Regions from separate parts of the Homo sapiens genome. Here region 1 is linked to region 2. Evidence: fine-mapped expression QTL. A gene starts in region 2. The other region holds a variant in brackets. All regions are shown on one strand. Distances are between the middles of the regions.

Region 1 (5,384 bases), 150 kb before region 2:
ACGTCAGGCTGGTGGACTTGATTCCCAAGGCAACCACAGGAAAGCACCAAAGGTTTTTGATGCAAGCAGGAACATGATGGGAGCTAATTTTAGGAAAATTGGTCTGCCATGAAGATGTGGAGCAGATTCAAAGGGAAAGCAGAGACAAGGAGGCCAAGGAAGGCACTGTTAGTGCTTAAACAGATGTAACGAAGTTTTGTGGTAGACACAACCCAAAAGGAAAGACAGGTACAAGTGTAAGACGCACAGTGTTTCAAAGTGTTTTGCCAACAAAGTAAATGTTGAAAAGCGAAGTTATAGCGAGGGAAGACTGAAAAAGTAATTCATAAAAGCACTAAGGGAAGGCTGAAATGCTGGGTGGGGTAAGAAACTCAGGAGTTTGGCCTTGAGTGTGTTGACTTGGATACTTCTACAAAATATAGATGGGGAGATGTCCAAGGAATCGCTGAAAACCAGGACTGGTGCTCAGAGAAAGGTTAGAAGAAGGTCACATTCCAAATCAAGGTATACCTGGCTGATGCTTGAAGACCATCATGCTTGAAGACCATCATTCTGGAAGACCATCTTGACATCCCAAATCACAGTTTGACACCATTTGCCATCTCTCTTCCAGGTGCTGTGCTGTTGGTTTAGGAATGCGGTTTTCTTGGATCTTGTATGGTTTCCACTTGTCTTGATATTGATATACAATGGCTTTTAAATGCCCAATATAAAAACAAGCATTGGGCCAGGTGTGGTAGCTCATGGCTGTGATCCCAGCACTTTGGGAGGCTGAGGCAGGTGGATCACTTGAGGTCAGGAGTTTGAGACCAGCCTGGGCCACACTATTAAACCCCATCTCCACTAAAAAGACAAAAATTAGCTGGATGTGGTAGCACACACCTGTAGTCCCAGCCACTTGGGAGGCTGAAACAGGAGAATTGCTTGAACCTGGGAGGCAGAGGTTGCAGTGAGCCAAGATTGCACTGCTGCACTCCAGCCTGGGTGACAGAGTGAGACCTTGTCTCAAAAAAAAAGCAAGGATTGCCATGAAACCTGAATTAGTCCCAGAGGGAGGGAAAGAGAATTCTTATTTGCTTTACAAATGGATAATTCCTATAGAAAATGCTAGTGCTCTGAAGACATTTTTTAAAACATGATCTGGTTTATATACAAGTAATTACAACAGCTTTCTAGGCAAACCTTCATTTAAAAAGTAAGGTATGGCAGGGCACAATGGCTCACGCCTGTAATCCCAGCACTTTGGGAGGCCAAGGCAGGTGGATCACGAGGTCAGGAGTTTGAGACCAGCCTGGCCAGCACGGTGAAACGCAGTCTCTACTAAAAATACAAAAAATTAGCTGGGCATGGTGGCACATGCCTGTAGTCCAGCTATTTGGGAGGCTGAGGCAGGAGAATCACTTGAACCTGGGAGGTGGAGGTTGCAGTGAGCTGAGATCATGCCACTTCACCCCAGCCTGGTAGACAAAGCGAGACTCCGTCTCACAAAATAAAAATAAAAATAAAAAGTAAGGTATATTCCAACATTTTGGACAGACTTACAACTTTGTTCTTGGGGAAAATGAAAGCAATGTTACTGGAAGGAAGATAGGACGTTAGGCGGCAGTATGGTGTATTGAAAAGACCTGGAATCAGGTTTAAATCCAGAGGTGCCCCTTATTAGGTATATGAGCATGAATACATTGCTTCACTGCTCTGAGACACAATTTCCACATCTCTACAAGAAAATAATAGAATGTTCTGTCCAAAGTTACTGTATTGCATAAGGTAATGTATATGAAATTGCTTTGCACAGGACTTGGCACAAAGTAGCTGCTTAATAAAAAGCTTAGAGTTCCTTGTGGTGGTCCAGTTGGAATCCCTTCTGGCCCCAAAATGAATGTCTCCCCCTTGACTCCTTCCCTGGGGTGCACCATGCCCCCTAGCCGTAATTCTTATTCAGAGCTTTGCTCTCTTGGAGATGTTTCTCTTTATCCATAACACATTGGGGCATTCAGGAATGCTGGTCCTGCCCTTTAGCTGGAGGACAATCATTTCAGACCCAAACCAGGCACTACGTGAAGGAGGTTCCAAACTCCAAACAGTGCCAGGTCCTTCTCTCCTCCACTTCAGGACCAGATGAAGACATCCTTCTTGGCTCTTTATTCTCTCAGCCTCCAGGAAAGAGTCAGACAACCCTTATAATCATGACTTCTTATTAAGCATTTACAGAATCATGCTATATGGCATCATTCTGGGTCCTTGGTTATGAAATCTTATACTTTAAGTATGCATTACTTTTAAATGACAAAAACCACAATTACTTTTGCACCAACCTAATACTTTTGTGAACAGTATTTTCTTTGATCTCTACAATAAGTCTATGGGAAAATAATGAGGTAGTTAAGAGCACAGACTGAGTGGGTTCGAACTGGAGCTCTACGACTCACTAGCTGTGTATACCCGGGCAGTTACTCATTCTCTCCATGCCTCAGTTGCCTCCTCTGCAAAATGGGGATAATAAGAGCACTTATCTCATGTGAGTTACTGTAGAGCTTAAATAATATATCTGTGAAAGCTCCTAGAACAGTGCCTGACACACAGCAAGTACGTTCAATTGCATTGTAGCCCATACTCTTCCAATGAGAAAACTAAGGCTTAAAAAGGTGAGGCAACTGCCTCAAAGTCACATGCCTTAAATGACAGTGCTATATGAAAAAAATCTCAATATCATTAATCATTAGAGAAATGTGAATCAAAACCACAATGAGATACCATCTCACACCAGTCAGAATGGCTATTACTAAAAGTCAAGAAATAACAGATGCTGGCAAGGTTGCAGAGAAAAGGGAACACTTATACACTGTTGGTACGAGTGTAAATTAGTTCAACCATTCTGGAAAGCAGTGTTGTGATTCCTTAAAGAACTAAAAACAGAACTACCAATCAAACCAGCAATCCCATTACTGAGTATATACCCCCAAAAATATAAATCATTCTACCCTAAAGA[C/T]ACATGCATGTATATGTTCATTGCAGCACTATTCACAATAGCAAAGACCTGGAATCAACCTAAATGGCCATCAATGATAGACTGGATAAAGAAAATGTAGTATATATACACCATGGAATACTGTGCAGCCACAAAAAAAGAACAAGATCATGTCCTTTGCAGAAACATGGATGAGGCTGGAGACCATCATCCTTAGCAAAGTAACATGGGAACAGAAAACCAAATACCACATGTTCTCACTTATAAGTGGGAGCTAAATGATGAGAACACATGGGCACAAAGAGGGGAACAACAGATACCGGGGCCTACTTGAGGGTGGAGGATGGGAGGAGGGAGAGGATCAGAAAAAATAACTGTTAGGTACTAGGCTTAGTACCTTGGTGATGAAATAATCTGTGCGCCAAACTCCCATGACACAGGCTTACCTATGTAACAAGCTTGCGCATGTATCCCTGAACCTAAAATAAAAGTTAAAAAACAAAAATAAATGATAGTGCTAGAACTTAAACTAAGAACTCTCTTGACAACCAGGACCACACATAATTTGATTAAAAGAAAGCAAAATAAAAGTCTCTTTTATTCCCTCTTTTTTAGAGAGTTTCTTCATCAGAGCTACCTGTGTCTTGCTCATTCCTCTCCCTTCCTTCTTTCTCCCCTCAAAAGATTAAAGGTTACATTGTGAAAAAAAAAAAAAAAAGTTTTGTATTGGGATCACATCTAAGGTTGACTGCTTGCTCTCTCATTCCTCAGCTAGTCCATTCTGTGGGTCTTCCTCATCTTGAATCAGATTCTCTGATAAGCTCATTACTCCATTTATCTGTTTAGCAAATACTAATTGAGTCAGCATCCTCCTAGGTACTAGATGCAACGATACAGTCCCACCCCCCGGGTGACAGTGTAGTTAGTCAAGTCATTGTTTACTAGAAGTAACTGAGTTACCAAAGGAAATTATGAAATGTTCTTCTCTTTAAAAATAGGATAGCTTCTTAGTCAGCTGCCTGTCTGGCTAACTTATCTAGAAGACAAGAGAGCAAAGGCCTGGGAGAGATTCATATCAAACAGAGGGGAGGCTAGTTCTTTGTAATTTGACTAACAGCCCAGAACAGAGCTGAGAAGACCCAGGCAACGTATATTTTGTATGCCATTGCTTTTAATGGCTGCAATTACTTTTACACCAACCTAATATAGCAAGGCAGTGAAGAGCCAGGTCTTGGTAAGAATAATGTGATTTTTGCATCACAGCCCTGCCATTTACAAATGGTACAATATCATGCAACTTCCTGAGCTCTTTCTCAGCTTCCTTATGATATTCCTCATGCAGTTGGGCAAGATGTTAAGAAAATGGGTATGCAAAATGCTTGGCACTGAGCCTGCCACATAGTGGGTGTTCAATAAGTGGTGACTTACAATGTTATAATAGGGCAAATTATAACGGGCTGGGGAAGGGCATGATGCATAGGGCAAGCTCACCTAGATTGTGCTTCTAAAAGGGGCTGCCATCTGCTACAACAGGCTTCCAGAAAAGTCTAAGCCAGGTTTGCTGCCATTGAGTACTGGACCAAGCTGTCAACCTCTAGAATGGAAATGCCTTCAAGCTACTAATGTCATCAAGTAGCCAAGTCACCGTCTTATGTAAAAGCTTCGACTTTGTTTCTCTGATTTCATCTTTGCCCTCTATTGTCTAATCTTAACACAGTTTCCAAAGAATAAGTAAGTCAGATATGCCATTCCTCTGCCTCAAGTCTCCCAGTGGACATCTTTTTCTTGCAGAATAGGCCATTGGTATTAAAAAGAGCTTGGCCAGGCGCAGTGGCTGATGCCTGTAATCCCAACACTTTGGGAGGCTGAGGCAGGCAAATAACTTGAGCCCAAGAGTTCAAGACCAGCCTGGAAAACATGGTGAAACCCCATCTCTACAAAAAAAATACAAAAAAAATTAGCCAGGCATGGTGGTGTGTGCCTGTAGTCCAGCTGCTCTGGAGGCTGAGCGGGGAGGATTGATTGAGCCCGGGAGGTGGAGGTTGCAGTGAGCTGAGATTGTGCCATGACACTCCAGCCTGGGCAACAGAGCTAGACCATCTCAAAGAGAGAGCGAGAGAGAGAGAGCTTGTTGTTAGTCCAAAAACATGCTTCTTCCTCCAGGCAGACACAATCCTGCATCAAGGCACAAGGCTTGGTGAGCTCAGGCATTACGGTGCAGTGAACAGATCTGCACAATGCTAGGCTTCCTGGCCACTTCCTCTCTCACTTCATCTCCTGTTACTCTTCTCCTCACCCTCTCTGATCCAACTGCACTTGAGTTCTTTGAACAGCCCATGCATGCTTCTGCCTGGGTTCCTTTGCACTTATCATCCCCTCTGTCTGGAAGCCTCATCCCCTAGACAGTCTCTGTCTT
Region 2 (5,384 bases):
ATTGATCTATATCCTTCTAGACTGATCTAGACTACAGATGATTCAGTTTACATGGTCAATTACTTTCAAATTGGTAAGGGAAGACTGCTCTGATCAGCACCTAATAAAAAAAAAAGGTGGAGGAGGGGGTGTTAAATTTAGCCAGTCTTACTACAACTGTTCTAATAGCTCTTCCCATTTATATTTAAAGCAAGAAAAATTGAATGTGCTCAACAGTTATAGTAATACATATGCACCAATTCTAAAAACCTTTATAGATGTTAACTGGGCTACCCACTGGCATGGTGTGCTAGTGTGCCTGGGAATTATGCATGACAGAGCCATGTTAAAAAAAAAAGTTTTCTATTATTACCTATGTCGCCACAAAACAGGTTAAGTTTTCAATGCAGAAAGATCCTTATTGTCATCAAAATACTTCAAACACAGTAATTTAAGCACATACACATTGCTTAGAAATGGAAAAATAAGACTAAGGTGAATCATTGTTATGTTTGATAATGGCAGTTCTAATTTTTTAGTACTTTGTTTTACACCTGTTTCTCAAAGTGGAAAACTATATCTGAGGAGGAGAATAATAAAAACTAGTATCTATTGAACATAGTACCACACAGTGCAATAAATTCTTTTCATGTACTATCTCATTTAATCCTTAATAATCTTAAAAGGTATCGACTATAACTATCCCCATCTCAACTAAAGGTCATGAATAAACAATTTATCCAGGAAGTAGCTGAGATAGATTTTAACCCAGAGCCTAGAACCAAGATAAATGGGAGAAGAAGGAAGTTGCTGAGGAAAATCAGAGATTTAACTCACAATGTAGAAAGGCATACTGTTTATTGATGATAGATAGTCCCTCCCTATAACCTGGAATAGTTTTCAATCTTGGCTACACATTAGAATCACCTGTGAGATTTTATTTATTTATTTATTTATTTATTTATTATTTTAACTGTCCACTCCTAGGACCCTCACTTAGTATTTGGCCTTCAACTGGCCTGGGGTGGAGCAAAGACAATGGTCTTTTTTTAAAGACACCCAGGATTCTAATGGACAGCTAAGTTTGAAAACCACTAATAATTATTTTCTACCCTATTAACCTCTCCACGTAGCCAACTACAATCAAGTTTACTGATTACCTAGGTTCTGAGCACTTTGCCCACTATTGCATTTTCCACTTGCCCAACAAAGTGCTTAGCTTTTCTTCTCCTTAACAGAGGAAACATTACAACTACAGCGTCGCCTTTTTAAATGACAAAATTCTCTAGCTTTTCTTTGACATGAGGAATGTAGAAGGAGGGATAGATGGCATGACAAAGTTTGGAAATCACTTCTTTAAGCATCCACATACTCCTTAGGCTTAAAACAGTGCAAAAAGGTCCTAAAAGTCAAAATAAAATCAAATGGCAGGTTATGAATTCTGTGATATATGTTAAAAGTTTAATATCCATGATATTTGGTTATACTTCTTAAGCTGGTGACAACACTTAGAAAGTATTATTGTGGTGAATTAAATTCCACTGTCTTGTCATGGTGCTGTGATGGCAATTATGCAGTGTTTTTACCCTGTTAAGTCACCTGAACATAAACTAACAGGTACTAAAGAAATTAAAGCATTACATAAGCATACTCAAACAACAATATGGCTGGTCATACGAGAAATGCAATTATTTTGCTGACAAACTTATATGAGAAGTCTTACTGTTTCCCTAAGTTATTCACAGCACATCCCACTCACTCTTCACCAAAATATAATGAAGACTATTCCAGACATTCTCAGACTTGCTGGCTCTTTTGTTTCACTGAAAAGGTGAAGAAGTACAGAGATACCTGACAAGTATGGAAGTCTGATCTATTATTTGAACAAGAGATCTAAAATGAGAGAGTATCAATGTAATACATCAAGTGGTACAAAACTGTGGACTTCATAGTGAAACATTACAAAACTTCCTGCTTCCGGACAGCTCATTATTTGGTTCAAGGCTTCACATTCCTTTGTCATGGTCTTTCCGAAAGCTTTCATTCCTTATTAATATCAGACTTTTAATGTTACTAGTGGGACTTTCCAAATTAACAAGCCCCAAGTTCGTGCCCCAAGGAGGAGCTTCAGGACTACAATTTTCCCTCAGTAACCTGAGCAGAGTGTATGTCCCTCACGTAGTTGTTGTTGTTGTTGTTGTAAACATATTTCTTTCTGTATATCTTAAATTTGTGTTCAACTATATATTTTTATCACGTACAATTACAAGAACTTGCATTAGTTCTGCGGAAATTAGTGGAAAAACTGGGAGACCTGTGGGTATGTGTGAAATAGACACGAAACGGAGCTTCGCTGCCAATTGTCACTGGGGTCTCACACGGCCCAGATCTGGCCTCTGAGCCATGTCACTGGGTGCAAAGGCACAGACAACCACAGGGTAACTGGGCGAGAAAACAAGGAGGCTCCCTGTCAATACACGTACTTCCACCCTGAAGAGGAAGGGTGGCCCGCAGGGCAGACCCTAATGAAAACCCGTGCCTACTGGGATCGTCACATCGCCCGGGCCTGTAGGGCCTGCTAAAGGGGTGTGTGGAGGAGGAAGGACAGCGTCCGTCCCCACTTCGGAGACCCAAACAAATGAAAATAAGCCAAGTTCTCACTTCCTGGTTGCCTACTCTTTCGGAAGGCCCCCGACACCAGACGGACACAGGGGAAACGGGGCTCCCGTGGAGTAACGGGGCCCACCCCAGCCCGCACCTCCCGCCCTCGCCCTCCTCCGGGCCTTACACGGTGACGTGACCGGAGCCGCGGACGACCACCGGGTCCGGCGAGTACTTGAGCAGCTGCTCCTCCAGGGCCCGCTCCTCGTCCTCCTCTTCCTCATAGATTTCGTCGAAATCCGCCATCCTGAGCCTCCGAGCTCCCCTGCCCAAAGGGCCTGACTCCCGGGGTTGGCGCCGGGGTACCGGCGGGCGAGGCGGCGGAGGCTGAGGGGAGTCGCCGCTGCCGCCGGCTCCGAGGCCGCGGAGTTCGCTGTCGGCTGTCTCGGCTCCGGCTACAGAGGGGATGGGGTCTGGACCGTCGCCGCCACCGCCGCCGCCATTACCATCAGCAATAACAACAACACAATGTCAACATCCGCCCAGAGGCCGACACCTCCACAAGCACAGACGCCGCTGCCGCCGCCGCAGCAGCAGCAACTCAGGAAACCACAGCAACAGCCCGAGCCACCCGCAGCGGGAGCAGCCGGCTACGGCATCGCGAGACTTCCCGGGCCAACGGGCGGGCGGGCGCGTGCGTGGGCGCGTGGGCGAGCGGACTGGCTGGCGGGCGGGCGGGCGCGCGCACGTGCGGCCTCGCGCGCTCCCAGGCCACCGTCTTTCCTCTGCTTCTACCCGCAGACGGCGACCGGGGCGCGCGCTCCCGCCGGCGGGCCCCCCTCCGCCGACTTCTGGGTGGCGGACCCTGGGGGCGGCGGCTCCGCTGACTGGAGGCCGCGACCCGCGACTCCGACAACGCAGCTTGGAATGTCCAGTGGGACATGCAGTTCCCCAAAGTCATCTCTAACCAAAACAAACAACTGAAAAGAAAAGCCCTGGCTGGAATAGACACATTTTTGTGCGTGTCATTGCCAGTTTATCTAATAATCGCATCTCGCTTTTCCTCAGGTTTTGAGTCTATGATGAGAACCAGAGTCTCTTTTTTCCCAATTTGAGGAGTCCAGCAGAGACACTGCAAACATTTGTGCTCACCACAGGATTTTTCAAGACATCTCCAAATTCAAACATCTTATCCCTTGATCCCCTTAAGTATAATCCAATATATGAGGCCAGCGATGCTGGTATTTTTTTTTTTTTCTTACAAGAAATCTCACCGTAGTCATGCTATGAAAAAAAACTGATAAATTACCTGGATTCCATATTAGAAGATGCAGTTTCTTGCCCCAACTCTCTCACCAAACATAACCTGGTTTTTGTTGTTGTTTCCTTAAAATCTTAGGGAATTCCTTTCCTTTTCTTACCAGTTCCTACCACAAAAAAGACCTGAAAGAAAGGGCAGAGGAGAGGAAGAAAAGGAGGCAGGAAGGAAGAAAGGATAGAAGGAAGGACGAGAAGAATGAAAGAAGAATGGGAGAGAAAGAAAGAAGGGGAGGAAGGAAGGAAAAGGTTTAATGGAGTCTACTTAGCTGCCTAGTAACAGTTGAACGGTCACTTTGGGTACTTGGTTTCATTAAGCATATAAACAGCACAGGGGAAGGAGTGGGCTTCTGAGAAGAGAGTCCTGGACAGTGAGGATACACCATGGGAGAAGAAAGGATAGTTCTACTGAGCCCAGCGCTGGTCAGGCTCTTCAAGTGCAGTGTTCATGTCACAGTAGTCGGCTTTAGATGGGTCACTGTTGACGTGGAGAAAGTGCAAAGGAGGTCAATGAGGACAGTGAGAGATGCCAACCTCCTTTTGGAAACAACTGAAGGAAATGAGTGTGGTTAGCCAAGAAAAAATGAAGGAAAAATACAGTAGTTGTATCAGACTTATTGTATCCCTCCCTGGAGGGTATTTGTTCATTCAACAAATATCTACTGAACTCTAGCTATGTGGCAGGCACTGTGGACGTGTGTGAATGAGGCACAGGCCCTGACTTCTGGTAGCTTATCTATTGTTAAGGCAAGCAATTGTCATCTCTGCCAGGGGCTCATGGAGGAGGACACAGGAAGTGTCAGTGGGGCACACAGGAGGCAGCTTGGTCTGGTGTTTAACAATGTGTGTTCTGGAACCTGACTACCTGGCCTTGAATGTCAGCTCTGCCACTTACTGTGTGACCCTAGACAAGCCACTTAACTTCCCTGTTCAGTACCTGCCCCATTGGGATGCTCAGCAGATTCAAGGGCTTAAGATCGGTGAAGTGCCTAGAAGAAGGCCCAGTACACAATAAATACGGGGTAATAGGTGATGCTTAAGGCTCCCTAGCTTATCAACCCTGTGAGGGTTACCACAGCATTATGTAATATTTTACTGCTTATAAAGCACGTACATAATATATCATTTAATATTCCCCCAAGAACCTGTGAGGTAAGCAAAGAGGGTGTATTTATTTTCAGATATGCTATGTTTCAGAGATGCTATGATATGCTATATTTCAGAGATGCTATGTGGCTTTCTCAAGGCCATGTGACGATTTAAGATTTAATGGTCTAATTGAGTATACTGGTGGTCCAAGCTTTCCTGAATGTCTTTTTTTTTTTTTTTTTTAAGACAGAGTCTCACTCTCTCACCTAGGCTGGTGTGCAGTGGCACCATCATAGCTCACTGCAGCCTTGAACTCCTCAGCTCAAGCGATCCTCCCTCCTCAGCCTCTGAATTTCCTCCTTGGCAGGAACCAGGAGACTAGTGGCTGCACTCAGTTA

Evidence for each region.
Region 1: its variant is fine-mapped to the expression of CHIC2 in whole blood (TOPMed, PIP 0.95).

The regions. Positions count from the first base shown.
Region 1 is chr4:53,910,566-53,915,949 of GRCh38, forward strand. The region is part of intron 1 of LOC124900702 (a long non-coding RNA gene); the gene reads left to right. Among named protein-coding and RNA genes, the nearest start is that of CHIC2, 150 kb to the right of the region's middle. The variant C/T (reference allele first, on the strand shown) is at 2,990.
Region 2 is chr4:54,061,415-54,066,798 of GRCh38, forward strand. CHIC2 (cysteine rich hydrophobic domain 2) reads right to left here and starts at 3,191. Exons shown (of 6, transcript NM_012110.4): 1 at 2,768-3,191. The coding sequence starts at 2,886. RefSeq lists enhancers at 2,599-3,099, 5,096-5,384 and silencers at 2,899-3,028, 3,259-3,498.